7 separate regions of the Homo sapiens genome follow, and all the other regions are linked to region 1. The links come from fine-mapping of genetic effects on gene expression. A gene starts in region 1. Each other region holds a variant in brackets. All regions are shown on one strand. Distances are from middle to middle.

Region 1 (4,068 bases):
CGGTGCTTAAAATGTCAACCTCAGACTTGTCATCTTTGTTACTCAGGTTTCAATCAATGGCCACAACAGGCAGGACGAAAGCCCCTCAATTAAAGGTTGAGAAGAGGTGGGCGGGGGAAGTGTTCAAATCTTTGCTCTGGCCGGTGCAGAGGGTCACGCCTGTGATCCCTGGACACTGAAATGCCCAGGCGGATGGATCACTTACGCTCTGGTGTTCCAGACCAGCTTGGGCAACACAGTGAAATTCCCATCTCTACCAAAAAAGAAAAATAGAACAGGTCAGGCGCGGTGGCTCACACCTGTAATCCCAGCACTTTGGGAAGCCGAGGGCAGACCACTTGAGGTCGGAGTCCCAGAATGGCCAATATGGTGAAACCCCGTCTCCACTAAAAATACAAAAACTACCCGGGTGTGGTGGCGCATGCCTGTAATCCCAGCTACTTGGGAGGCTGAGGCAGGAGAATCGCTTGAACCCGGGAGGCAGAGGTTGCAGTGAGCCGAGATCGCACCACTGCACTCCAGCAGGGGCAACAAAGCGAGACTCTATCTCAAAAAAAGAAAGAAAAAAGAAAAATAAAACAATGAGCCGGGCGTGGTGGCGCGCACCTGTGGTCCCAGCTATTGCGGGAAGCCGAGGTGGGAGGATCCCTGGGGCCCGGGAGTTCGAGACTGCAGTGAGCTCTTCCAGCCTGGGTGCAACAGGGAGACTTTTCTTTCTTTCTTTCTTTCTTTTTTTGAGATGGAGTTTCACTCTTGTTGCCCAGGCTGGAGTGCAATGGCGTGATCTCAGCTCACTGCAACCTCGGCCTCCCGGGTTCAAGCGATTCTCCTGCCTCAGCCTCCCGAGTAGCTGGGAAATGGGGTTTCTCCATGTTGGTCAGGCTGGTCTCGAACTCCTGGCCTCAGGTGATCCGACTGCCTCGGCCTCCCAAAGTGCTGGGATTACAGGCCTGAGCCACCGCTTTTCTCTTTATAACACCTTTTTCTCTTTATAACAGGAAAAAGGGAGGAAGAGAGAGGGAGAGGGAGAGGCGGAGGGGGAAGAGGAGGGAGAGGGAGACGGGAGGGGAAGGGAGAGAGGGAAAGAAGGAAATTAAATCCCTGTTCTTTTACTACATGGGGAAAGAAAGACATAGATAGATTAGATAGACAGATTAGATAGATAGATAGATAGATAGATAGATAGATAGATAGATTGATTAGATACATAGATATTAAATCCCTGTTCTTTTACTACATGGGGAAACTTTGGGCGGGTTTCCTAAACTCGGCTCAACTTGTTCTCCTGTAAAACAGGGATAATACAAGTCTTTACTCCACAGTTTCCGTGATGAAATTAAAAATGAAGTTCTTCCATCAACTTTAAAGTGATGAAGTAATCGGCGCTCAGAGCGGGCGCAGGCAACGCCGCTGAGGAGCCCGAGGCTAGGCTCTCGGGGGAAGGGCCGGGCGACCTCCCACCCCGGCCAGGGCAGGCCCCGCAGCAGCGAACTCGGCTCCTTCAGTGATCGCCCCGAGCTCTCGCCTGCCCAGCCCCCACGCCCAGCAACCCAGATACGCGCGGGGGTTCGGGCTCCTTAGCCCCGACCACTGGCGCCGCCCCGAGGGCCCGAATCCCCTCAGGCCGCCGGGTTCCAAGCCCGCGTGCAGCCCACCTCGTGGGGTGTCTCCTGAATCCCAATCCAGGAATCAGGCGTGGGGAGGTTTATCCCGAAGCTAGAGGCCCAAGGCCTGAGGAGAAGCAACACCCCTCCTCACCTGAAACCAGCAGGCCGCGGCCGGGCTCGCGAGCCCGCCGAAGACTCGGTAGTTACCTCGGCCGCACTCCGAATGCACCTACGCCAACTGCCACTTCCGGAGCCGCTCAAGCTCCCGCCAGAGCCGCCGGCAGGCATGCTCCTATTGGACAGAAGCCCTACGCTGTGGCCAATACCCACTCTTCTTCTTCAATGGGTCCCCCGATAGCTGAAGCAGCGGTGCTCTCATTGGCTGGTAGTTCGTCCTGACGAGGCGGGACCGCGCTTGAGGAAGCCTCCTACAATTGGCAGGAATCTACGTCCGTCACCTTGCACCCGCCCCGGAAAAAATGGGAGGTTTTTTTGTTTTTTTTTTGTTTGGTTTTTTTTTTTTTTTTTAGCGCGTTTTATTTGAACTTTCTGGCGGGAGAAAGTTATATGATTTCTCGGTCCATTTTGGAATGGGGATGATGATATTAAAACTGACTCCTGCTGCTTATCCCTAACGCTTTAGTGAAGGAGTTATCTGTATCCAAAGGATAGCAGCTAATCGAATAATTTCAAAATATTTCAATATTTTGAATTTCGGAGCCTGTAAAGAGGCGTAGGACAGTCCAGTTCATATGTATCCTCTCATGGGGTTGAAGAGCTCACGCAAAATACTTTGCCTACATAATCTCTTCAATCTCAAACCGCTGCAAGGGATCTGAGCTACTGAACAGTCTCAAATCACTTGTTAGGGCCGCCGCTCGCCGCCAGCGCCAAAAGAAAGGGGCCCCCGGAATTCTCCAGCTACGTACGAGGAGCGCGAGCCCACAGCCGTCTCGGCTCCGAGCCCGCCGCCGGCAGGAAAGCCACAAAGAAAACTGATAAACCCAGACAAGATGATAAAGACGATCTAGATGTAACAGAACTCACTAATGAAGATCCTTTGGATCAGCTTGTGAAATACGGAGTGAATTGTGGTCCTATTGTGGGAACAACCAGGAAGCTGTATGAGAAATAGCTTTTGAAACTGAGGGAGCAAGGAACAGAATCAAGATCGTCTCCTTCAGCAACAATTTCTTCTTCAGCAGAAAATACAAGGCAGAATGGAAGTAATGATTCTGACAGATATGGTGAAAATGAAGAAGACTCTAAATTGGGCTCAAGTTTGAGAAGAGAGAACCGCTAAACAGGGGAGTAAAGACTCCAGTAACCCTCAAGCAAAGAAGAGTTGAGCACAAGGAGAGCTATTCTCAAGCTGGAATAACTGGGACTGAATGGACAAGTGGATCTTCAAAAGGCGGACCTCTGCAGGCATTATTAACTAGGGAATCTACAAGAGGGTCAAGAAGAACTCCAAGCAAAAGGGTGCACGCTTCAGAATATTTTCGTATAGATGGAGCAGTAATTTCAGCGAGTACTCCCATAGCTGAAACTATAATTGCTTCAAACAACGAATCCTTAATTGTCAATAGGGTGACTGGAAATTTCAAGCATGCATTTCCTATTCTGCCAGTCACTGAATTCTCAGACATACCCAGAAGAACACCAAAGAAACCATTGACAAGAGCTGAAGTGGGAGAAAAAAAACACAGGAAAGAAGAGTAGAAAGGGATATTCTTAAGGAAATGTTCCCCTATGAAGCAACTACACCAACAAGAATTAGTGCTAGTTGCCGCAGAACAATCAAAGGAGCTGCAGGCCGGCCATTAGAACTCAGTGATTTGAGGATGGAGGAGTCGTTTTCATCTACATATGTTCCTAAGTATGTTCCCTTGGCAGACGTCAAGTGAGAAAATACAAAAAAAAGGGACGCTCCATTCCTGTATGGATAAAAATTTTGCTGTTTGTTGTTGTGGCAGTTTTTTTGTGTGTGTTTGGTCTATCAAGCTATGGAAACCAACCATGTAAATCCCTTCTCTAATATTCTTCCTGATGACTCTAGAAAACCCAACTGAATGGTATCTCTTTGGCACATTCAACTTGGTCTTGTATTTTTAGTAACTGTGTTGAAGAACATTCGTGTACGCTTTTTGACTCCAAGAACTAAAAATAATGTGATTTTGCCTCAATAAACGTAGTATTCCATTGGAAAGCAAACAAAAGATATATGAATGGACTTTATTAAAATGTTTTTGAACTTTGGACTAGTAGGAGATCACTTTGTGCCATATGAATAATCTTTTTTAGCTCTAGAACTTTTTTTTTTTTAGACAGGGTCTCGCTCTGTTGCCCAGGCTGGAGTGCAATGGCATGATTTCGGCTCACTGCAACCTCCACCTCCTGGGTTCAAGTGATTCTCCTGCCTCAGCCTCCTGAGTAGCTGGGATCACAGGCACGTGCCACT
Region 2 (4,068 bases), 150 kb before region 1:
ACTTAGACTCTCACACAATAATAATGGGAGACTTTAACACCCCACCATCAATAATAGACATATCAACGAGACAGAAAATTAACAAGGATATCCAGGACTTGAACTCAGCTCTGGAGCGGGCAGACCTAATAGACATCTACAGAACTCTCCACCCCAAATCAACAGAATATACATTCTTCTCAGCACCACATTGCACTTATTCTAAAATTTATCACATAATTGGAAGTAGAACACTCCTCAACAAATGTAAAAGAGGAGAAATCACAACAAACTGTCTCTCAGACCACAGTGCAATCAAAGTAGAACTCAGGATTAAATATCTCACTCAAAACCGCACAACTACATGGAAACTGAACAACCTGCTCCTGAATGACTACTGGGTAAATAACGAAATGAAGGCAGGGATAGCATTAGGAGATATACCTAATGTTAAATGACAAGTTAATGGGTGCAGCACACCAACATGGCACATGTATACATATGTAACTAACCTACACGTTGTGTACATGTACCCTAAAACTTAAAGTATAATTTTAAAAAATGTAAAGGGGCTAAATGCTCCAATTAAAAGACACAGATTGGCAAACTGGATAAAGAGTCAAGACCCATCAGTGTGCTGTATTCAGGAAACCCCTCTCACGTGCAGAGACACACATAGTCTCAAAATAAAGGGATGGAGGAAGATCTACCAAGCAAATGGAAAACAAAAAAAGGCAGGGGTTGCAATCCTAGTCTCTGATAAAACAGACTCTAAACCTAAACCAACAAAGATCAAAAGAGACAAAGAAAGCCATTACATAACGGTAAAGGGATCAATTCAACAAGAAGAGCTAACTATCCTAAACATATATGCACCCAATACAGGAGCACCCAGATTCATAAAGCAAGTTCTTAGAGACCTACAAAGAGACTTAGACTCTCACACAATAATAATGGGAGACTTTAACACCACACTGTCAACATTAGACAGATCAACGAGACAGAAAGTTAAGAAGGATATCCAGGAATTGAACTCAGCTCTGCACCAAGCAGACCTAATAGACATCTACAGAACTCTCCACCCCAGATCAACAGAATATACATTCTTTTCAGCACCACACCACACCTATTCCAAAACTGACCACATAGTTGGAAGTAAAGCACTCCTCAGCAAATGTAAAAGAACAGAAATTGTAACAAACTGTCTCTCAGACCACAGTGCAATCAAACTAGAACTCAGGATTAAGAAACTCACTCAAACTTGCTCAACTACATGGAAACTGAACAACCTGCTCCTGAATGACTACTGGGTACATAACGAAATGAAGGCAGAAATAAGGATGTTCTTTGAAACCAATGAGAACAAAGACACAACACACCAGAATCTCTGGGACACATTCAAAGCAGTGTGTAGAGGGAAATTTACAGCACTAAATGCCCACAAGAGAAAGCAGGAAAGATCTAAAATTGACACCCTAACATCATAATTAAAAGAACTAGAGAAGCAAGAGCAAACAATTTCAAAAGCTAGCAAAAGACAAGAAGTAACTAAGATCGGAGCAGAACTGAAGGAGACAGAGACACAAAAAACCCTTCAAAATAAACCAATGAATCCAGGAGCTGTTTTTTTGAAAAGATCAACAAAATAGATAGACTGCTAGCAAGACTAATAAAGAAGAGACAAGAATCAAATAGACACAATAAAAAATAATAAAGGGGCTATCACCACCGATCCCACAGAAATACAAACTACCATCAGAAAATACTATAAACACCTCTATGCAAATAAACTAGAAAATCTAGAAGAAATGGATAAATTCCTGGACACATACACCCTCCCAAGACTAAACCAGGAAGAAGTTGAATCTCTGAATAGACTAATAACAGGTTCTGAAATTGAGGCAATAATTAATAGCCTATCAACCAAAAAAAGTCCAGGACCAGGTGGACTCACGGCCGAATTCTACCAGAGGTACAAAGAGGAGCTGGTACCATTCCTTCTGAAACTATTCCAATCAATAGAAAAAGAGAGAATCCTCCCTAACTCATTTTATGAGGTCAGCATCATCCTGATACCAAAGCTTGGCACACAACAAAAAAAGGGAATTTTAGACCAATATCCCTGATCAACATCTAGCTGAAAATCCTCAATAAAATACTGGCAAACCAAATCCAGCAGCACATCAAAAAGCTTATCCACCACCATCAAGTTGGCTTCATCCCTGGGATGCAAGGCTGGTTCAACATATGCAAATCAATAAACGTAATCCATCACATAAACAGAATCAGTAATAAAAACCACATGATTATCACAATAGATGCAGAAAAGGCCTTTGACAAACTTCAACAGCCTTGCAAACTAAAAACTCTCAATAAACTCGGTATCGATGGAACATATCGCAACATACTAAGAGCTATTTATGACAAACCCACAGCCAATATCATACTGAATGGGCAAAAACTAGAAGCATTCCCT[T/C]TGAAAACCAGCAAAAGACAAGGATGCCCTCTCTCACCACTCCTATTCAACATAGTATTGGAAGTTCAGGCCAGGGCAATCAGGCAAGAGAAAGCAATAAAGGGTATTCAAATAGGAAGAGAAGAAGTCAAATTGTCCCTCTTTGTAGATGACATGACTGTATATTTAGAAAAGCCCGTCATCTCAGCCCAAAATCTCCTTAAGCTGATAAGCAACTTCAGCAAAGTCTCAGGATACAAAATCAGTGTGTAAAAATCACAAGCATTCCTATAAATCAATAACAGACAAACAGAGAGCCCAATCATGAGTGAACTCCCATTCACAATTGCTTCAAAAATAATAAAATACCTAGGAATCCAACTCACAATGGCTGTGAAGGACCTCTTCAAGGAGAACTACAAACCACTGCTCAAGGAAATAAGAGAGGACACAAACAAATGCAAAAACATTCCATGCTCGTGGATAGAAGAATCAATATCGTGAAAATGGCCTTACTACCCAAAGTAATTTATAGAGTCAATGCTATCCTCATCAAGCTGCCACTGACTTTCTTCACAGAATTGGTAAAAACGACTTTAAACTTCATATGGAGCCAAAAAAGAGCTAGCATAGCCAAGAAAATCTTGGGCAAGAAGCACAAAGTTGGAGGCATCATGCTACCCGACTTCGAACTATACTACAAGGCTAAAGTAACCAAAACAGCGTGGTACTGGTACCAAAACAGATATACAGGCCAATGGAACAGAATGGAGTCCTCAAAAATATCACCAGATGTCTACCACCATCTGATCTTTGACAAACCTGACACACGTAAACAATGGGGAAAAGATTCCCTATTTAATAAATGGTGTTGGGAAAACTGGCTAGCCATATGCAGAAAACTGAAACTGGACCCGTTCCTTACACCTTATACAAAAATAAACTCAAGATGGATCAAAGGCTTAAACGTAAGACCTAGGATGATAAAAATCCTAGAAGAAAACCTGGGCTGTATTAATACCATTCAGGACATAGGCATGGGCAAAGCAATGGCACCAAAAGCAATGGCAACAAAAACCAAAATTGACATATGGGATCTAATTCAACTAAAGAGCTTCTGCACAGCAAAAGAAACTATCATCAGAGTGAACAGGCAACCTACAGAATGGGAGAACATTTTTGCAATCTATCCATGTGACAAAGGGCTAATATCCATTAAGTCAAGAAACAACAGATGCTAAAGAGGTTGTGGAAAAATAGCAATGCTTTTACACTGTTGGTGGGAGTGTAAATTAGTTCAACCATTGTGGAAGACACTGTGATGATTCCTCAAGGATCTAGAACTAGAAATACCATTTGACCCAGCAATCCCATCACTAGGCATATACCTAAAGGATTATAAATCATTATATGATAAAGACACATGCACATGTATATTTATTGTGGCACTATTCACAATAGCAAAGACTTGGAACCAACCCAAATGTCCATCAATGATAGACTGGATTAAGAAAATGTGGCACATATACACTGTGGAATACTATGCAGCCATAAAAAAGGATGAGTTCATGTCTTTTGCAGGGACATGGATGAAGCTGGAAACCATCATTCTCAGCAAACTATCACAAGATCAG
Region 3 (4,068 bases), 21 kb after region 1:
AACTAAAAAGTCAAGTATTTGTTACTGTTTTTAGGCTGTAACCTGTTGTTTAGCATATACTCTGACAGATTGTGGTGTGTGTCTTTTTTTTTTTTTTGGAGACAGGGTCTTGCTTTGTCACCCAGGCTGGAGTGCAGTGGTGCGATCTTGGCTCACTGCAGCCTCCACCTCCCAGGTTGAAGCAATTCTCATGCCTCAGCCACCTGAGTAGCTGGAACTACAGGTGCGTGCCACCATGCTTGGCTAATTTTTGTATTTTTTTTGCAGAGACATGATTTCACCATGTTGGCCAGGCTGGTGTCAAACTCCTGGCCTCAAGTGATTTGCCTGCCTACGCCTCCCAAAGTGCTGGGATTTCAGGTGTGAGTCACCGTGCCCAGCCCGTGGTGTGTGTCTTTGATGAATAAAAATAATGATACTAGGCCGGGCGTGGTGGCTCATGCCTGTAATCCCAGCACTTTGGGAGGCCGAGGCAGGTGGATCACAAGGTCAGGAGTTCGAGACAATCCTGCCGAACATGGTGAAACCCCGTCTCTACTAAAAATACAAAAAAATTAGCTGGGTGTGGTGGCGGGCGCCTGTAGCCCCAGCTACTTGGGAGGCTGAGGCAGGAGAACGGCGTGAACCCAGGAGGTGGAGCTTGCAGTGAGCCGAGATCACACCATTGCACTCCAGCCTGGGTGACAGAACGAGACTACGTCTCCACACACACACAAAAAAAGATATTTATTAAGTGAAATCTTATAACCAAAATTCCTTCCAAAACGTGGGCCTTAAAAAATGTAGGCAGGTAAATTATTAAAGAGGATCACTGGAACCACCAACTCAATCCAATCTGTTCATTCACTCTGAGTCTTAGACTCAAAGGGCAAAGGAGGCTTGTCCAAGGTCTGTCAGAGAATCAGGGCAGGTTCAGAGCCTATAAAAATCAATTGTATTTCTATCTGCTAGCAATTAACAATCAAAAGATTAAATTAAAAATTTTCATTTCCAATAGCATAAAGAGAATAAAATACTTAGGAATAAATTTACAAAAGAAGTGCAAGTCTCACCCTGAAAATTTTGTACCTAAATTGTTGAAAGAATTTTGTTTTGTTTTGTTTGTTTGTTTTTTGAGATGGAGCCTCACTTTTGTCGCCCAGGCTGAGTGCAATGGCATGATCTCGGCTCACTGCAACCTCTGCCTCCTGGGTTCAAGCAATTCTCCTGCCTCAGCCTCCCGAATAGCTGGGATTACAGGCGCTTGCTACCATGCCCGGCTAATTTTTGTATTTATAGTAGAGGCGGGGTTTCACCATGTTGGCCAGACTAGTCTCGAACTCCTGACCTCAGGTGATCCTCCTGCCTCAGCCTCCCAAAGTGCTGGGATTATAGGCATAACTCACTGCACCCAGCAAGAAATTTTAAAAGATCTAAATAAATGGAAACACGTCCCATGTTCTTGAATAGGAAGACTTTATACCATTAAGATGGTAACATTTTCCAAATTGACCTACAGGTTCAATGCAATCCTTACCCGATTTGTAGTTGGCTTAAAAAAAAAAAGCAAAAACAAAAACTGAAATTGACAAGATATTCCTAAAATTTGTGTGGAAATGAAAGGAATTCAGGATAGCCAAGACAGTCTTGCAAAAGAAGAACAAAGCTGGAAGACTTATACTTCTCAATTTCAAAACTTATCACAAGGTTACAGTAATGAAGACAGTATAGTGCTATCATAAGA[C/G]TAGACAAACAGATCAATGGAATAGAATTGGGGGTCCGGAAATAAACTCATACATATAAAGCCAGTTGATTTTTCACAGTTTTTTTTTTTGGAACTTGCTCTGTCACCCAGGCTGGAGTGCAGCGATGCAATTTCTGCTCACTGCAATACCTGCCTTCTGGGTTCAAGAGATTCTACTGCCTCAGCCTCCCAAGTAGCTGGGACTACAGGTGCCTGCCACCACGCCTGGCTATTTTTTTTTGCGATGGAGTCTTGCTCTGTCAAGCAGGCTGGAGTGCAGTGGCGTGATCTCAGGTCACTGCAAGCTCTGCCTCTCAGGTTCACACCATTCTCCTGCCTCAGCCTCCTGAGTAGCTGGGACTACAGGTGCCCGCCACCACACCTGGCTAATTTTTTGTATTTTTAGTAGAGACGGGTTTCACCATATTAGCCAGGATGGTCTTGATCTCCTGACCTGGTGATCTGCCCGCCCTGGCCTCCCAAAGTGCTAGGATTACAGTCGTGAGCCACTGCGCCCAGCCAACGCCCGGCTAATTTTTGTATTTTTAGTGGAGATGGGGTTTCGCCATGTTGGCTAGGCTGGTCTCAAACTCCTGACCTCAAGTGATCCACCTGCCTCGGCCTCCCAAAGTGCTAGGATTACAGATGTGAGCTGCAGTGCCAGGCCAGCACAGTCTTTTAAACAAATGGCTCTGGGACATGTGAATATCAACATGCAGAAAAATGAAGTTGAATGACTACCTTATACAATACACCAAAATTAACTCTAACTTCGGAAACCTAAATATAAGAGCCAAAAACTATAAACTCTTAGAAGAAAACACAGGAGGGCCAGGTGCAGTGGCTCAAGCCTGTAATCCCAGCAGTTTGGGAGGCCAAGGTGGGTGGATTGCTTGAGGTTAGGAGTTTCAGACCAGCCTGGCCAACATGGTGAAACCCTGTCACCACTAAAAATACAAAAATTAACTGGGCCTGGTGGTGCATGCCTGTAGTTCCAGCTACTCGGGAGGCTGAGGCATGAGAATTGCTTGAACCTAGGAGATGGAGGTTGCAGTGACTGATATCACACCACTACACTCCAGCCTGGGTGACAGAGCAAGACTCCATCTCAAACAGAACAAAACAAAAAACCCCCAAAACCTGTACATGAATGTACACAGAAACATTATTCATAATAATCAAAAAGTGGAAAAAACACAAGGTCCTTCAATTGATTAATGGATAAGTAGGATATCCATACAACAGACTATCATTCAGCCATAAAAAGGAATGAAGAAATGATACTTGCTATAATATAGATGAACCTTGAAAATATCATGCTAAGTGAAAGAAGCCAGACTCAACAGGCCACATATTGTATTATTCCATTTACATTGAAGATTCAGAAAAGGCAAATCTATAGAGACAGAAGGTAGGACTGTTGCCTGGGCTCAGGATGGTGGTGATAGGGGTGAAAGAGGAATGACTGCTAGTGGGTATAGGGTTTCTCCTTCCTTCCTTCCTTTTTTCTTTTTTTTTTCTTTTTTTTTTTTGTTGGAGTCTTGCTCTGTTACCCAGGCTGGAGTGCAGTGGCACGATCTCAGCTCACTGCAACCTTGGCCTCCAAGGTTCAAGTGATTCTCCTGCCTCAGCCTCCCAAGTAGCTGGGATTATAGGCTCATGCCACCATGCCCAGCTAATTTTTGTATTTTTTAGTAGAGACGGGGTTTCACCATGTTGGCCAGGCTGGTCTTGAACTCCTGACCTCAGGTGATCTGCCCTCCTTGGCCTCCCAAAGTGCTGGGATTACAGGCGTGAGCCACTGCACCTGGCCTGTAAATATATTTAAAGCCATTAAATTGTACATTTTAAATAGGTAAATCTTACGGTATGTAAAATATATCTCAATAAAACTGTTAAAAATACAGTCTCAATGAAAATCTTGATGTGTATTTTGAGGAGTGTGATAAAACTTTCTTTGATATTTATTCAGCTAAGTCAACCTGAAAAAGAAGAATCAAGAGGAGGAAGTTCTTTACCAGATATCGAAATTTACTGCAAAGTCATATGAAAAAAACAGTAACAGTGTGTTACTGGTACAAAAACAGACAAATTGATCAGTGGGAAAGATTAGACAGATCAGAGTCAGATCTATGTCTATATAAAAACTTAATATACAATAAATATGGTACCACAAATCAACAGGGAAAAGACAGACGACTTAATAGATGGTATAGAGAAAACTGACTTACTATGTGGCTAAAAATAAAAGTTGACCCTACATAACGTCACATACAAAGGTGGATTCTAGTAGGATTAAAACCTAAATATAAAAAATAAAACTGGAAAGTTAAGAGAGGAAAATA
Region 4 (4,068 bases), 140 kb before region 1:
TAACTATGAGGTAGAATTCAAATTTGTTCCATGTGATAGTCTGACTAGTGTTGAGTAAGTCGCTACACGCAAATTTGCTTAGAACAATAATGTCTCAGGGCATAATCTGTGTTTTGGGTAAAGTGCTATCAACCTGTAAGGGTCATGATGGCTAAATACCATTAACTGAACAATCATTATGTGAAACAAATCTGTATCCTGATTATACATCCTTAACTTGGTCACAGTCGAAATTGAATTGATATTATGCTACCTCATACACAATATAAGAATATTCCAAAGTAAAATTATATTTTTATTCCTACCCACCCTTTGTGCTACTGTTGTCATATATTTTATTCTACATGTTATAATCTGAAAGTATACTGTTATTGTTTTGGCTTAAGTCAGTTCTTTTTTTTTTTTTTTTTTTTTGAGATGGAGTTTTGCTCTTTTTGCCCAGGATGGAGTGCAATGGCGCTATCTCGGCTCACTGCAACCTCTACCTCCCAGATTCAAGTGATTCTCACGCCTTGGCCTCCTGAGTAGCTGGGATTACTGGTGTGCACCACCACACCCAACTAATTTTTATATTTTTAGTGGAGATGGGGTTTCACCATGTTGGCCAGGCTGGTCTCGAACTCCTGACCTGAGGTGATCCACCCACCTCAGCCTCCCAAAGTGCTGGGATTACAGGCGTGAGCCACCACGCCTGGCCAAGTCAGTTATCTTAAAGCATGAAAGAATAATAGTCATACGTATCAATTATTTTTCTCTTCTAGTGCTCCTACTTCTCTGCTTCAATTTGTGATCCTTTTACCTTCAAGAATTTAGGATTTCTCACAGTGTGCAAATGTGGGAGATGAATATTCTCAGCTTTCGCTTGTCTGATAACACCTATTTTATTTTTTTTGAGATAGAGTCTTGCTCTGTCGGCCAGGGGTGAGTGCCGTGGCGGGATCTCAGCTCACTGCGACCTCTTCCTCCCCAGTTCAAGTGATTCTTATGCCTCAGCCTCCCAAGTAGATGGGATTACAGGTGCGGTGGTTAATTCTTTTTTTTTTTTTTTTTGAGATGGAGTCTCGTTCTGTCACCCAGGCTGAAGTGCAGTGGTGCAGTCTCGGCTCACTGCCAGCTCCACCTCCCAGGGTCACACCATTCTCCTGCCTCAGCCTCCCGAGCAGCTGGGACTACAGATGCCCACCACCACACCTGGCTAGCTTTTTTGTATTTTTAGTAGAGATGGGGTTTCACCGTGTTAGCCAGGATGGTCTCGATCTCCTGACCTAGTGATCTGCCTGCTGGGTTTACAGGCGTGAGCCACAAAACCTGGCCATTTTTGTATTTTTAATAGAGACAGGATTTCACCATGTTGGCCAGGCTGGTCTTCAACTCCTAGCCTCAAGCGATCTGCCTGCCTCTACCTCCCAAAATGCTGGGATTACAGGGGTGAGCCACGGTGCCTGGCCTATTTTCATTTTTTAAAGGGGTATTTTTTGCTGGATATAGAATTCCATGTTGGCATTTTCTCTCAGCATTTTACATTTATTGTTTCATTTGCTCTAGTTTCTACTGCTTGCTTTGTTGAGAAGCCAGCTGTCATTTTCCTTCCCTCAAGAGAATGTCTCTTTTTCTCTGCCTGCTTGTTGAGTTTTCTTTTTATCTTTTCGTTTTGGCAGATTGTTAATAATGTGTCTAGGCTAGGTGTGGTGGCTCACACCTATAATCCCAGTACTTTGGCAAGTCGAGGCGGGTGGATCACCTGAGGTCAGGAGTTCGAGACCAGCCTGACCAACATGGTGAAACCCTGTCCCTACTAAAAATACAAAAGTTAGCTGGGCGTGGTTGTGGGCACCTGTAATCCCAGCTACTCAGGAGGCTGAGGCAGGAGAATCACTTCAACCCCAGAGGCGGAAGTTTCAGTGAGCCGAGATCACACCATTGCACTGCAGCCTCAGTGACAGAGCGAGATTCTGTCTCAAAAAAAAAAAAAAAAAAAAAAAAATTGTTAGGTGAGTATGGATTTCTCTTGAGGTTCACTAAGTTCGTTGAATTTATGGGTTAATGCCTCTCATTAGATTTGGAAAACATCTTGGCCATTATTTCTTCGAATACTGCTTCTATCCCATTCTGTCTGC[C/CTT]TTTTTTTTTTTTTTGAGACAGAATCTCGCTCTGTTGCCCAGGCTGGAGTGCAGTGGTACGATAGTGGTTCACTGCAACCTCCACCTCCCAGATTCAAGCAATTCTCCCGCCTCAGTCTCTTGAGTAGCTGGGATTACAGGCACCTGCCACCACACCCAGCTGATTTTGTAATTTTTAGTAGATATGGGGTTTTTTACCGTGTTGAACAGGCTGGTCTCGAACTCCTGACCTCAAGTAATCCACCTGTCTTGACCTCCCAAGGTGCTGGGATTACAGGCGTGAACCACCGCACCTGGCCATGAATCTGTTTTTATGTCCACTAAAGCTGTCTTTTAAAACTACCCATAAGTTCTTAATTTCTGAAATTACATTTAGTCCAAAAATGTCTAATTGATTTTCTTAATAAAGACTAATTCTCGGTTGAAATACTTCATATTTTCATCCATTTTAATTTTCCTCTATTTATAGGAAAATATTTTATTTTCCTCTATTTTATTTATAGGAAAATATTTTATTTTCCTCTATTTTATTAGTTATTTGAAGTCCTTGTCTGCTATTAATAATTCCAATATATGAATTACCTCTTCTCTGGATCTCTCTCTGTTGGCTACTTTATCTCTTGATATCTTCCTGCTTCTTCTCATATCCAGCCATTTCTGATAGCATGCGGGACATTATGAATGGCTATATTATAGAATTTCTGGGTTATATAATTGTTCTCTAAAGAGTCCTGACTGCTTCTTACATAGACCTTCCACCAAATCTCCTGTTTTTTGGATACTATTTGTCCCCCATTTTCAGCAGTATCGTATCCTTCCTATTCCTTGGCTCTTTGAGAGTTCTTTTTTTTTTTTTTTTTTTTTTGTGACGGAGTCTCACTCTGTCACCCAGACTGGAGGGCAGTGGCACGATCTCACTGCAACTTCTATCTCCCCGGTTCAAGCGATTTTCCTGTTTCAGACTCCTGAGTAGCCAGGATTACAGGGGTGTGCCACGACGCCTGGCTAATTTTTTTATTTTTAGTAGAGGGGTTTCACTATGTTGGCCAGGCTGGTCTCAAACTCCCGACCTCAGGTGATCCACCCAGCCTTCCAAAATTCTGGGATTACAGGTGTGGACTACTGCGCCCGGCTGGCTCTTTGAGAGTTCCAAGGCACACATCAACTTTTTTCTGGGTTTCTCTTCTGTCAGATTCAGTCTATTGATGGATTTTGAGGTTTTCCCCTAATCCTTTGCTTTATAAATAATGCCACAACAAATATCCTTTTATAGACACATCTCTATCCATTCTTTTAACTATCCATAAATTCATAGAAGTAGAAATGCTGGGTCAAAACATATGCATTTTAGGTTGACTGTTTTATAGCTTGTTTTTATTCCCATACATAGGCTTGAACAGGGTTCAGCCAACTTCTTCTGCAGAGAGCCAGAAAGTAACAGTTCTCAGGGAACTGTAGTCACTGTTGCAGTTACTCAACTTTGCCATCCTAGTGTGAAAAGCAGCCACTGGCAATACATAAATAAATGGTGTGGCTGTTTCAATAAAATTTTATGTATAAAAACAGGTAGTAGACTGGATTTGGCCTAAGTGTTGTAGTTTTTTGATCTATGGGCTAGAGAATGCTTAAATACACACATCCTTATCAATACTGTGTATTTATCCTTTTTTTTTTTTTCTTTTTAAGAGATGGGGGGCTCACTTTGTTACCCAGGCTGCAGTGCAGTTTTGTGATCGTAGGTCACTGCTACCTCGAACTCCTGGCTCAAGGGGTCCTCCAGCCTCAGCCTCCCGAGTAGTTGGGAGTACAGGTGCGAACCCATTTATCAAATTTTTGATATTTGCTAATCAAATGGATGACAACAGTGCACTCATTTTTTGCTGAATTTTTATGCTTTTGATTCTGAGGGAGAATAAACTTTTTACTGTTTATTGGACACCTTTTTCTTTTC
Region 5 (4,068 bases), 98 kb before region 1:
ATGTTGCAAAACTATAGGAAGCTAAGAAAAAGAAAATTGTCTTTGCCCAGAAAAAGAATCTAAGAAAACCTTTCAGGCCGCTTAATGGGTCTCCTAAAATCTAGCATTTTTGAATTTTCTATAGGAGAAAATCTTGAATAAAATTACATGATTACATGTAATTGTGTGTGTGTGTGTTGTGTGTGGGGGGTGTAGGGAGCGGGGAGAGAGAGACAGAGAGAGAGAGAGAGAGACAGACAGAGAGAGGAGTTAGCTGTTTCTTTTGTTTTGTTGGTAGGAGGAACAGAGTTAAGTTCAATTACCAATGTTGTAACACGTCCCTCAGCTCTGGCCTGGCTCACAATAGTTTCACTGAAATTTGTAATGCCAGCGCTTTAGAATTTGAAATGAGAAATTGACAGGTATCTCTTTATTCTAATGATAGAAGCAAATACAAAACATTGGGGTTTCCTAGGACACAGGACTATTCTTCATTTGGGTCACGTCAGAAGTAAAACTCCAAAAGATAAAAATCACTGCTTCCTGTGCTGAAACCTTACTATATATGGTGCACTTTCTTTTTTTTTTTTTTTTTTTTTTTTTGAGACGGAGTCTCGCTCTGTCGCCCAGGTCGGACTGCGGACTGCAGTGGCGCAATCTCGGCTCACTGCAAGCTCCGCTTCCCGGGTTCACGCCATTCTCCTGCCTCAGCCTCCCGAGTAGCTGGGACTACAGGCGCCCGCCACCGCGCCCGGCTAATTTTTTGTATTTTTAGTAGAGACGGGGTTTCACCTTGTTAGCCAGGATGGTCTCGATCTCCTGACCTCATGATCCACCCGCCTCGGCCTCCCAAAGTGCTGGGATTACAGGCGTGAGCCACCGCGCCCGGCCATATGGTGCACTTTCATTGTCTGCTTCTCTAGCCTCCTGGCTTTCTTTTGGGGATTCACCCAACTCTGTCAATCTCAGTCTGAGTGCTCCAGGTCGGGCCTCATTCCTGACACAGATAGAGCAAATGAGTCCACATAATCCAAGACTATGCACATAACATTCCTAACTGGTTCAGGGACTCAGACAATGACAAACAATACAACATTTGCAATAATGCTGGGACACATGGAGGAACAGGAATAAAAGCTACTTTGGCCACCTTGCCACAACGTGGAGACTGTGAAAGAAGCCAGCCCAGAAGCAGATGGTAAGAGAAGTCAGTCCTGCTAAGATGCCAAGTATCAATACCTATCTAAGCCTGAAGCCTGTGCTAAACCTTGTCTTTACAGTTATATGAGGCAAATTCTCTTTTTACCTGAAGCTAGTTTGGAAAGGACTTCCTATTACTATAAAAGAATCATAACTCCTAACTGATATAGTGAGGAACATGAACTTTTTACTTAAATCTCACTCTGATAAAGCAGAAAGAAGTATCAGAATAATTTTACTGCTTTTTTTTTTTTTTTTTGAGACGGACTCTTGCTCTTTCGCCCAGGCTGGAGTGCAATGGCATGATCTCGGCTCACTGGAACCTCCGCCTCCCGGGTTCAAGCGATTCTCCTGCCTCAGCCTCCTGAGTAGCTGTGATTACAGTTGCACACCACCACGCCTGGCTAATTTTTATGTTTTTAGTAGAGACGGGGTTTCACCATGTTGGCCAGGCTGGTCTAGAACTCCTGATATCAGGTGATCCGCCCACCTCGGCCTCCCAAAGTGCTGGGATTACAGGCATGAGCCACTGCGCCTGGCCTGTACGTATATTTTCTATTTGCAAAGTGCTTAACCAATAGTATCTTAAATCAGGTGCACATGCAAAGTAACAGAAAAGCTTAAAAATAAGTGCAGTTATCTGCTTCTGGAAGTGGTTATTTAGAACAACCCTTTAACTAT[A/G]AACAACTAAAAGTGTTGGAAAACAAAAATCTTCTTAAAAGCAATAAAGAGCTAAAAATACCGTAAATTACTGTCAAGCCAGAACTGAAGGAAAAGGGGGTACATACCCAAGAACACAGGAGAGCTCAAAAGCTCACTTCTGCCTTGAAGGCACTTGCTAAACCCATCAAAATGACTGAAGGGCCGTGTGGGCAGAAACCAAGCCCAAGGCCTGCCCAAGGTAGGAAATCTAATGAGATAGTCCTCACTTAAAGCTGGCATCTCAAAAGGCTACACCCTTAAGACAAGGGTGAATCAGAAGTAAACCAGCCTTTCCACAGATCTGAGCACAGATTTGTACTGTATGGGTGTTTCAGAAAACCTCGAACTGTGAGAATGATGTAAGATGGTCTTAGAATGGAGTGGTCAGAATTCCCTAGCATAAGCAAATAAAAATCCTTTCTGAAACAAGACATCATAAACGATAATCAGCAGAAAGGCAAAGAAACTTTAATAGACATTTAAACACAGTAAACCCAAGTATTTATTCTATGTTTCCTTGGGTTTGAAGGTATATATACCTGAACTGAACAATGCCAGCTGCTTATCAACTGTCATTCACAAACCTGGAACACATCCACCTCGTAAATACTGATTCCAGTTTCAAATACATCTCTAACAGAGTCTAGCTTATCATTATTTCTAGTTCTCATATTTGCACTTGTATCATCAAAATGCAATAGTGCCATGCACAGTGGCTCACACTTGTAATCCCAGCACTTTGGGAGGCCGAGATGGGTGGATCACCTGAGGTCAGGAGCTCAAGACCAGCCTGGCCAACATGGTGAAACCGCATCTCTACTAAAAATACAAAAAATTAGCTGGGCATGGTGGGGCTCACCTGTAATTCCAGCTACATGGGAGGCTGAAGCAGGAGAATCACTTGAACCTGGGGAACAGAGTTCCAGCGAGCCAAGATCACGCCACTGCACCCTAGCCTGGGCGACAGATTGAAACTCCAACTCAAAAAAAAAAAAAGAAAAAAAAAAAAAAGCAACGGTTTTGGCCGGGCGCAATGGCTCACACCTGTAATTCCAGCATTTTGGGAGGCTGAGGCCAGTGGATCGCTTGAGCCCAGGAGTTTGAGACCAGTTTGGGCAACACAGCAAACCCCGTCTCAAAAAAAAGAAAAGGAAAGAAAAAAAAAAAACAATAGTTTTGAAATTTTTTGATGGCTCATAATTTTATTGAAAAGACAAATGGTTTTTGCTCCATAATTACAAAATATTTTCATTTTTATATTAATAAAAATCAATCAGAATAATAAATCCAATGAATATTTTCACTTCTACATCACCTATTTCCTTCTAGGTGCTTTTGTACACACACCTGACTTCACCATTTCTCCAGCTGTCTAATAAACTTTGGTGCAAAAACATCATAAAACCACCAGCTATTTGTCTCTCTACTGGTACCAGCAAACTACCAGGTATTTGTCTCTTTACATTTATCTTTTAATTCACATAATAATTGTGAAGCATTTCTCAGCCTCAGAAAATCTTAAAAGAAGCTATAGGAATAAACTGCTCAATAGCAAAAATGAAAGCCAAAAGACAGTGGAATAAAAAAAAATGCACTGAAAGAAAAATATATTCCAACCTAAAATTCTATACTGTGATGGATTTTTTCAAGGCCACAAATCCCACCTGCCCCCCTTTCTGAAAGCACAGCCCTTTGAATGTGACATTGTTGCTCATGCCATCAACAGATGGAGTCAGGCCAGGCACAGTGGCTCTCATCTGTAATCACAACACTTTGGGACGCCAGGGCAGGAGCATCACTTGAGATCAGGAGTTTGAGACCAGCTTGGTCAACATAGTGGGACCCTGTCTCTATAAAAAATCAGCCAGGTGTGGTGGCACACGCCTACAGACACAGCCACTTGGAAGGCTGAAGTGGGAGAATGGGTTGAGCCCAGGAGTTTGAGGCTACAGCAAGCTACAATCATGCCACTGCATTCCAGCTTGGATGACAGCATAAGACCCTGTCCGCCTACCACCCGCTGGCCCCTCAAAAAACAGATGGATTATAATTCCTTCACTCTTTGTGTTTTTTTGGTCTTTTTTTTTTTTTAACCACACCTCACTTGGCACTTTAACCTTTTGAATCTGGGCATGGCTACCTGACCTGCTTTGGTCAGTAAAACATTAGCAAATGTGACATCAGAGG
Region 6 (4,068 bases), 110 kb before region 1:
TTCTTAATGTATTCACTTTGAATGTCCACTGTCACCTAAAATGTAACATGCCTAAAACATAATTTTATTTTGAATTTATTATTTTAAAAAATAAACCACTGGAGAATTTTAGACTTAATGGAAAAGTTGAGAAGACAGCACACAGAGTTCCCATATGCCTTCTCATTTTCCCCTATTGTTAATAGCTTACTTTATATAGTGCAATCTGTCACAACTAAAGAACCAACAATGGTACACATTTTATTCAGATTGTACTAGGTATTTTATGAGGATGATGGTTAATTTTTTGTGTCAACTTCACTGGGCCACACGCGTTTCGCCAAACATTGTTCTGGGTGGGTCTACGGTGCTGTTTTTGGATGAGATTAGCACTTGGACAGGCAGACTAGCAAAGCAGACTGTCCTTCCCAATGTGGGTGGGTCCCATTCCATCAGTTGAAGGTCTGAATAGAACAAAAAGGCTGAAGCTCCCCCAGGACTCCAGAATCAAAGAAAGGGGGGATTTCCTCCTAACTGCTTTGAATTGGGACCTCAGTTTTTGTCTTTTTTTTTTTTTTTTTTTGAGACGGAGTCTCACTCTGTCGCCCAGGCTGGAGTGCAATGGCACGATCTCAGCTCACTGCAACCTCCGTCTTCCAGGTTCAAGCGATTCTGCCACCTCAGCCTCCCCCCGCCGCCCCCCTGCCCCCGCAGTAACTAGTAACTTGACTGCCATCAAGCCTAGCTAATTTTTGTATTTTTGTAGAGATGGGTTTCAGCATGTTGGCCAGGATGGCCTTGAACTGACCTCAGGTGATCTGCCTGCCTCAGCCTACCAAAGTGCTGGGATTACAGGCATGAGCCACTGCGCCTAGCCCTAAAAACTCTTTATAAAAGGCAAAGCTTAAGCAACTAATTGTAAGAAAAATTAAACCTGAGCTGGGCATGGTGGCTTAGGCCTGTAACCCCAGCTACTTGGAGGCTGAGGCAGGAGGATCTCTGGAAGCCAGGAGTTTGATTGAGACCAGACTGGGCAACACAGCAATCCCATCTCGAAAGAAAAAAAGAAGGGAGGAAGGGAGGGAAAGAAGGAAGGAAAGAGAGAAGCAATTCTGTATATAGAATATGTAAAGAAAGTAAGATATGTTTTTGTAAGGAAAGCTATAAAGGCATAAAAATATGTGTTTGCTGAGAAAAAAAGTTATTTAAAGGTTATTTCAAATTGAATGAATTTTTAGAAGAGATATAGTCTGGCACCACGCAGTCCTGCGCAGTCCTGCACAGTCCTGCTTGGTTGCATGGCAGCACCTGGGGGTGCCCAGCTGGAGGGATGGGGCAGGATCGGGGCCAACAGGCAGCAAGCCAGGATCCTGCAGCAGCCAGCACCTTCCTCCTGCTGGTGTCAGAGCTGGGCATGGGGGGCAGCATGCCTGTGAGTAGCCTCAGAAGGCTGAGGTCCCTGCCCCCAATATTGGCACCTAGGCCTGCACCCTCACACCCTTCATGACCACAACCAAATTTTCTTGTCAATTATGTCTTTAACCATGATCATTTTGTTTCCACAGTTAATTGCTTTATACGGATGCATTTTCTTTAAGCTCTTTACAACCAAGTAAAATCCTAGAGCATTATGTCTTCAAGAACGTTCATGGAAAGTAATGGAAAGGACCCTAATAAGCACTACTGAATACAAGTTTCTGATAACTTTAGGCTCATCTAATTTGGACTGGGTAAGAATTCCCAGAACTTTAATAAAGAGACTGGTTTATAAAACTGCTAACCCAAGCAGGACAAAAATTAACTGAATACTAAGAAAAATACTCTGCCAGATTTTCATGCTAAATCAGCCAGTACTAAAACTGTTAAGATATGCAACTTGAATGAACTCTATGTTCCAAGTCAAATTACCTATGATAACCCATTTAATGAACAGTGCTATGCACCTGAATTGGAGATACAAAATTGGTATTTAACAGGCTATAAATGCA[A/G]TGTTAAGCATGGAATCACAGAGATCCTGCACAGCCACCTGGTCCTTCCTGAATCCGTAAATCTTCCATTATTAAAAGCTCTGCACTCCATGACTCATCATGGAAGACAGAAAATGATCCAAATAGAAAACATATACATTGGTGTGGTGACTGCTCTAAATCGCTAAAAATGGTTTATGACCAAGGTTTGGCTTATCAAACCTACAACCTGGGAAGATAATTAAAACTTCAGCTACCTGATGGGTCATTGGAACACTTATAGAGGAATTTCATTCAACTGTCATTTTCAACACGTTTTCTGGTAAAAGCTTTCTCATGCAAGAAGGCTGATGCTATAACAGTAGCTAAAAGGTTGTCAGAAAATGTGTTTCCCTCACGGGGCATTCCTGGAGAAATCTCCAGTGATAGTGGTACTTGTTTCACTGGACAAGTTGTAAACAGTTAAGTAAGGTATTACAGACACAACAGCTTTAGGTGAAGCTAACTGAATTGACTGGTTGCCTTGGTCAAAGGTATTGCAGATTGATGACAACCTCATCTGCTTCCAGTAGAAAATATAAGTTGACTCATTATGAAATAGTCACTGGAAGGCCTATGCCACTAATAATAGAACCTCATGTATCTTCCTCTCCCAAACTCTGATATGAATAAATGCTGCAAGCCTTTAATGCATTATACCAAAGTGTATTTTCACCAGCTAAAGGAAGCTTTTCTTTTTTTTATTTTCTGTAGATGGTCTCACTCTGTTGCCCAGGCTGGAGAGCAGTGGTGTGATCTCAGCTCTCTGCAACCTCCACCTCCCGGGTTCAAGCAATTCTTGTGCCTCAGCCTCCCAAGCAGCTGGGATTACAGGCATGCGCCACCACACCCAGCTAATTTTTGTATTTTTAGTAGAGATGGGGTTTCACCATGTTGGTCAGGCTGGTCTTGAACTCCTGGGTTCCAGAGACCTGACCTCCAGTGATTCGCCCACCTCGGCCTCCCAAAGTGTAGAGATTACAGGCATGAGCTACCGTGCTGGCAGTAAAGGAAGCTTTTCATGACCCACCCACTGAGGACATTCAAATCCTTCACAATCTAGAACCTGGAGGTTGGTTCTTCTGGAAATGACGTCAGGAAAACACTGCCCTTGTTACCCACAATGAAGCAAAACTCTGGGGCCTCAAACACTGGGTCAATTGATATCACAATGCAGGAGGGCCCCTCCAGACTTGGAATTGTACACCCATTGGAAATCTTAACGTAAAGCTAACCAGTTAGAAAAGGTTTTCCCCCAGAAGCAGATGGCACCCTAGACATGGACAGCTTTCCCAAAAGCATGGATCAAAACTTCTCTGTCATCATGAGACTCTTACCTCTCAATGTTTTCCTTGTTTATGCCTCTATGAACAACAGAAAAGGGGTCTTATGGTGCACCAATGGGGCACACTTTTATTTGTGAAAACTTTTACAGCCAACCTTATCCATAGGCAGCATTATGTCTTAATGGATGAAAGATGACAGTCCAATGTGGGTTAGGAATTTTAATGGTTCTGTCAGAAAGAGAACACTGGTCCACTCCTTTTAACCTACATCAGAGGTGAAAAAGAACACTAGTGCTTGGAAGCCTTCATCATTCTGAATGGCCTTCATTGTTAGGTCACTTTTTCCAGAGTTTGGAGTAAACGATACAGTGTCTAGAAATTTGTCCCTCATGGGCTGGACGCAGTGGCTCATGCCTGTAATCCAAGCACTTTGGGAGGCTGAGGTGGGCAGATCACTTGAGGTCAGGAGTTCAAGACCAGCCTGGTCAAAATGGGAACTCTGTCTCTAGCAGAAACACAAAAATTAGCGGGGCGTGGTGGCGTGTGCCTGTAGTCCCAGCTATTTGCGAGGCTGAGGTGGGAGAACTGCTTGAACCCAGGAGGCAGAGGTTGCAGGGAGCCGAGATCACGCCACTATTCTCCAGCCTGCGCAACAGAGTGAGACCCTGTCTCAAAAAAAAAAAAAAGAAAGAAAAAGAAAAAAAAAAGAAATTTGTTCCTCATGATATGCTCCATAGCAGATTCTACTGCAAAGGCTATGGTTACAAAACAGACTTCTTTAAATTATCTTGCTAAAG
Region 7 (4,068 bases), 160 kb before region 1:
AAGTGCGAGCCAGCATGCCCAGCCTCTTGATTCCCTTAAAACACTTGACACATACACTATAAGGTCTACTTTTTTTTTTTTTTTTTGAGACAGAGTTTCCCTCTTATTGCCCAGGCTGCAGTGCAATGGCGCGATCTCGGCTCACCACAACCTCTGCCTCCCAGGTTCAAGCAATTCTCCTGCCTCGGCCTCCCGAGTAGCTGGGATTACAGGCATGTGCCACCATGCCTGGCTAATTTTGTATTTTTAGTAGAGATGGGGTTTCTCCATGTTGGTCAGGCTGGTCTTGAACTCCTGCCCTCAGGTGATCCACCCACCTTGGCTTCCCAAAGTGCTGGCATTACAAGAGTGAGCCACTGCACCCAGCCCATAAGGTCCACTTTATACAACTGTTTTAACACATGTTACACTAGAAAATATCTAAAGCCTATTCTTGCAGATAATGACTAAATATTACTTTATTTTTGAAGCTTCCATAAAAATATTTTGATAAGTGATCCAATTTCTGAAACTAAGCAAAAATGAGCCTTAAATTGTTCAGTTGGTGAGATAGAGCAGAGACTTGGGATGATGTAGAACATGAAGATGTATGTATATATTCATTTTTGGAGGGGGGTACATTCCTCTCTGGCTACTATATACTCCTAGACAAAAAAATACAGTCATCAATCACTGATTCAGTTAAATATCTGCTTGGCAATGCGTTTCACAGATAGGCTATTAGAAGAAACAAGCAAATGTTTACTGAGTACATACTGTGTTCCAGACACAGTGTTAGGAACTGGTGGATAAAACATAAGGAGAAGGACAAAGACTGTCCAGTGGCAGCTACAGTCAATGGCAGGGAGTATGATCAAGTAATTGGCTAATGGCATCACTGGGTACCACAGCAGTATAGGGGAGGAATATTCCAAACTGGGGAGGGATGGGGAGTTTGGTCAGGGAAGATTTACCATAGAAAATGCTAAGATGAAACCTGAAAGGCTAGAAGCAGTTAGCCAGATTCAAGGGTAGGGAGAAGACTTTTTTAGGCAGATGACACCGCATCCATGGAAGCAAGGGGTGGAGGGAACCAGAAGTCCAATGGAGGACTGACCGAGGAGCCTCAAGCCAGGCCAGATCAGAAAGCCTTTGTAAGCCATGACTGAACTTTAACCCAAGAATAACGGGGAATCGCAGAAGAGAAAGTAGGGGGTGACACGACCAGATCTGCTTTTTAGAAGGACAGAGGCATATAAAAAGTACATTAGAAATGACATGGAAGCATGCAGTTAATTCTGTATGAGTGCTGAGGAAGATCTGAAGAAAACACAAAGGATGGGTAGGATTTCTTCTCCTCCCTCCTCAAAAACAAAAATATGAGTAAAAGCTCTCATCTCTCGGCTACCATCAATAACTGAGTTTTTAGGCTGGGCATGGTGGCTCATGCCTGTAATGCCAGCACTTTGGGAGGCCAAGGTAGGTGGATAACCTGAGGTCAGGAGTTCAAGACTGGTCTGGCTAACATGGGGAAACCCGGTCTCTACTAAAAATATAAAAATTAGCCAGGCGTGGTGGTGCATGCCTGTAATCCCAGCTACTCTGGAGGCTGAGGCAGGAGAATAACTTGAACCTTTTTTTTTTAAAAAAAAAAAAAAAAAGAAAGAAAGAAAGAAAGAAAAGAAAAGCTTTCTGGTATCACAAAAATTTAGGACAAACAGTAACAAAAGCCAGAAAAATTAAAACTATAAGCAGAATATTTCCTTACTATTTTATCGAATGCAAAGTCAGATGTCCTACAATTGAGCTAGAAATAGATTTTCCGCCAACAGACGTTTAGATGACCATTTAGATTTTTTGAATGTCTTCACCTTTTAATTTGAAAACTTACTTGTTCTGACAGGCATAAATTTCCTTATGAACAAGTCTCTTCCCTAAGAACCATGACAGTATTGTCAAATGCTAAACATTTTACTGTATCTCATCTTTTTTTTGTTCATTTCAAATTGATATATAATTCATATACCATAAAATTTACCTCTCTAAAGTGTACAATTCAGTGGTTTTTTACTTTATTCACAAGGATGGGCAACAACCACCATTGCCTAATTATAGAACA[T/C]TATCACCCCAAACAGAAGCCCACACCCATTCTGTCACACTTTATCCTCTCTACCCTCATCTTCTGGCAACCATTAATCTACTTTCTGGTCTTTTATTTCTTTTTTTTTTTTTTCTCAGACGGAGTCTTGCTCTGTCACCCAGGCTGAAGTGCAGTGGCGCGATCTCGACTCACTGAAGCCTCCGCCTGGGTGACAGAGCGAGAATCCATATTAAAAAAAAAAAAAAAAATTTTTGCCCAGGCTAGAAGTACAGTGATGCAAGTGTGATCTCGGCTCACTGCAACCTCCGCCCCCCGGGTTCAAGCAATTCTCCTGCCTCAGCCTCCGTACTAGCTGGGATTACAGGTGTGCGCCACCACATCCAGCTACATTTTTGAATTTTTAGTAGAGATGGGGTTTCACCATGTTGGCCAGGATGGTCTCGATCTCCTGACCTCGTGATCTGCTGGCTTCCAGCCTCCCAAAGTGCTGGAATTACAGACGTGAGTCATCGCGCCTGGCCTCAAATCTTAAGACATCCATCCATGAATCTATCTGTTCATCCATCCCAAACGTGTAATGAGTAACTACTATAATCTGGACATCCTTCTAGGTAATGGGGATGAGAAAGGTGAAGGAAGGAAAAAAAAAAAAAGACCATTGTCTCAGCAAGTCAAGAAGCTCAACCACAGGAGGACAAAAGAAGGAAGAGTCAGGTTGGAAAGGGAATAAACAATAAAAATATAGTGTGATAAATGTGATAACAAGCATGCAGGAGATTTTACAGAACACAAAGGAAGAACACATTTTGGTGAGTGGTAAGAGGAGGGACAGGGAGTCTTGGTAGCAGTCCAGTCATCCTGGGCTTGATCCTCAGGGATAAGAAGCAATTTAGTCAGATGAACTGACGGAGATTGGGCTTCTAAGTGTACAAAAGTAGAAAGGACACAAAGAATAAATGATAACCTATGGAAACAGAGTTCAGAATAGCTGGAGTTGAAGGTATGAAAGATGAGATGGGGCGCAGGGGTCAGATCACATTGAATACCGCAGTTCATATTAAAGGTTTTGAATTTTATCTTAAAGGAAATGGAAGGTTAATGGATAATTTTGACCAAAGAACTCAAAAGATCACATCTGATTACACTGGAGAAGGGCAGGATTTAGGGAGGTTAGTAGACCAAGAGGCAAGAACTTATTTGAATGAAAAAAGATGGGATATACTTGAGATACTTAGAATAAAGTAATTACAGGATTAGGGTGTGGGCTAGGGGATGAAGGGAAAAATTTCCTTCAGTCAAGCTCCTTGAAAATATAGTCAGCCTACTGGGAGACACCTCCCAGTAGGGGCCAACAGATATCTCATACAGGCAGGTGCCCCTCTGGGACGAAGCTTCCAGAGGAAGAATCAGGCAGCAATATTTGCTGTTCTGCAGCCTCCGCTGGTGATACCCAGGCAAACAGGGTCTGGAATGGACTTCCAGCAAACTCCAACAGACCTGCAGCTGAGGGGCCTGTCTCTTAGAAGGAAAACTAACAAACAGAAAGGAATAGCATCAACATCAACATCAACAAAAAGGACATCCACACCAAGACCCCATTCGTAGGTCACCAACATCAAAGACCAAAGGTAGAAGATGGGGAGAAACCAGAGCAGAAAGGCTGAAAATTCCAAAAACCAGAATGCCTCTTCTCCAAAGGAACACAACTCCTCACCAGCAAGGGAACAAAACTGGAAGGAGAACGAATTTGACAAGTTGACAGAAGTAGGCTTCAGAAGGTCGGTAATAACAAACTTCTCTGAGCTTAACGAGCATGTTCTAACCCATCAAAAGGAAGCTAAAAACCTTGAAAAAAGGTTAGACAAATGGCTAACTAGAATAACCAGTGTAGAGAAGAGCTTAAATGACCTGATGGAGCTGAAAACCACAGTACGAGAACTTCGTGAAGCATACGTAAGCTTCAATAGTCGATTTGATCAAGCGGAAGA

Evidence for each region. PIP is the estimated chance that this variant, and not a neighbour inherited with it, causes the effect.
Region 2: its variant is fine-mapped to the expression of RFWD3 in whole blood (TOPMed, PIP above 0.99). The same link has a PIP of 0.9 or more in breast, esophagus muscle, stomach, thyroid and tibial nerve.
Region 3: its variant is fine-mapped to the expression of RFWD3 in whole blood (TOPMed, PIP above 0.99).
Region 4: its variant is fine-mapped to the expression of RFWD3 in whole blood (INTERVAL, PIP above 0.99).
Region 5: its variant is fine-mapped to the expression of RFWD3 in whole blood (TOPMed, PIP above 0.99).
Region 6: its variant is fine-mapped to the expression of RFWD3 in whole blood (TOPMed, PIP above 0.99).
Region 7: its variant is fine-mapped to the expression of RFWD3 in whole blood (INTERVAL, PIP 0.98).

Annotation. Positions count from the first base shown.
Region 1 is chr16:74,665,028-74,669,095 of GRCh38, forward strand. RFWD3 (ring finger and WD repeat domain 3) reads right to left here and starts at 1,850. Exons shown (of 13, transcript NM_018124.4): 1 at 1,759-1,850. It also overlaps the pseudogene TMPOP2. RefSeq lists a silencer at 1,380-1,529.
Region 2 is chr16:74,515,171-74,519,238 of GRCh38, forward strand. The region is part of intron 2 of GLG1 (golgi glycoprotein 1); the gene reads right to left. Among named protein-coding and RNA genes, the nearest start is that of GLG1, 90 kb to the right of the region's middle. The variant T/C (reference allele first, on the strand shown) is at 2,456.
Region 3 is chr16:74,685,880-74,689,947 of GRCh38, forward strand. The region is part of intron 4 of MLKL (mixed lineage kinase domain like pseudokinase); the gene reads right to left. Among named protein-coding and RNA genes, the nearest start is that of MLKL, 13 kb to the right of the region's middle. The variant C/G (reference allele first, on the strand shown) is at 1,724.
Region 4 is chr16:74,526,853-74,530,920 of GRCh38, forward strand. The region is part of intron 2 of GLG1 (golgi glycoprotein 1); the gene reads right to left. Among named protein-coding and RNA genes, the nearest start is that of GLG1, 78 kb to the right of the region's middle. The variant C/CTT (reference allele first, on the strand shown) is at 2,118.
Region 5 is chr16:74,566,998-74,571,065 of GRCh38, forward strand. The region is part of intron 1 of GLG1 (golgi glycoprotein 1); the gene reads right to left. Among named protein-coding and RNA genes, the nearest start is that of GLG1, 38 kb to the right of the region's middle. RefSeq lists an enhancer at 744-1,243. The variant A/G (reference allele first, on the strand shown) is at 1,861.
Region 6 is chr16:74,559,784-74,563,851 of GRCh38, forward strand. The region is part of intron 1 of GLG1 (golgi glycoprotein 1); the gene reads right to left. Among named protein-coding and RNA genes, the nearest start is that of GLG1, 45 kb to the right of the region's middle. The variant A/G (reference allele first, on the strand shown) is at 1,968.
Region 7 is chr16:74,509,963-74,514,030 of GRCh38, forward strand. The region is part of intron 2 of GLG1 (golgi glycoprotein 1); the gene reads right to left. Among named protein-coding and RNA genes, the nearest start is that of CLEC18B, 91 kb to the left of the region's middle. The variant T/C (reference allele first, on the strand shown) is at 2,099.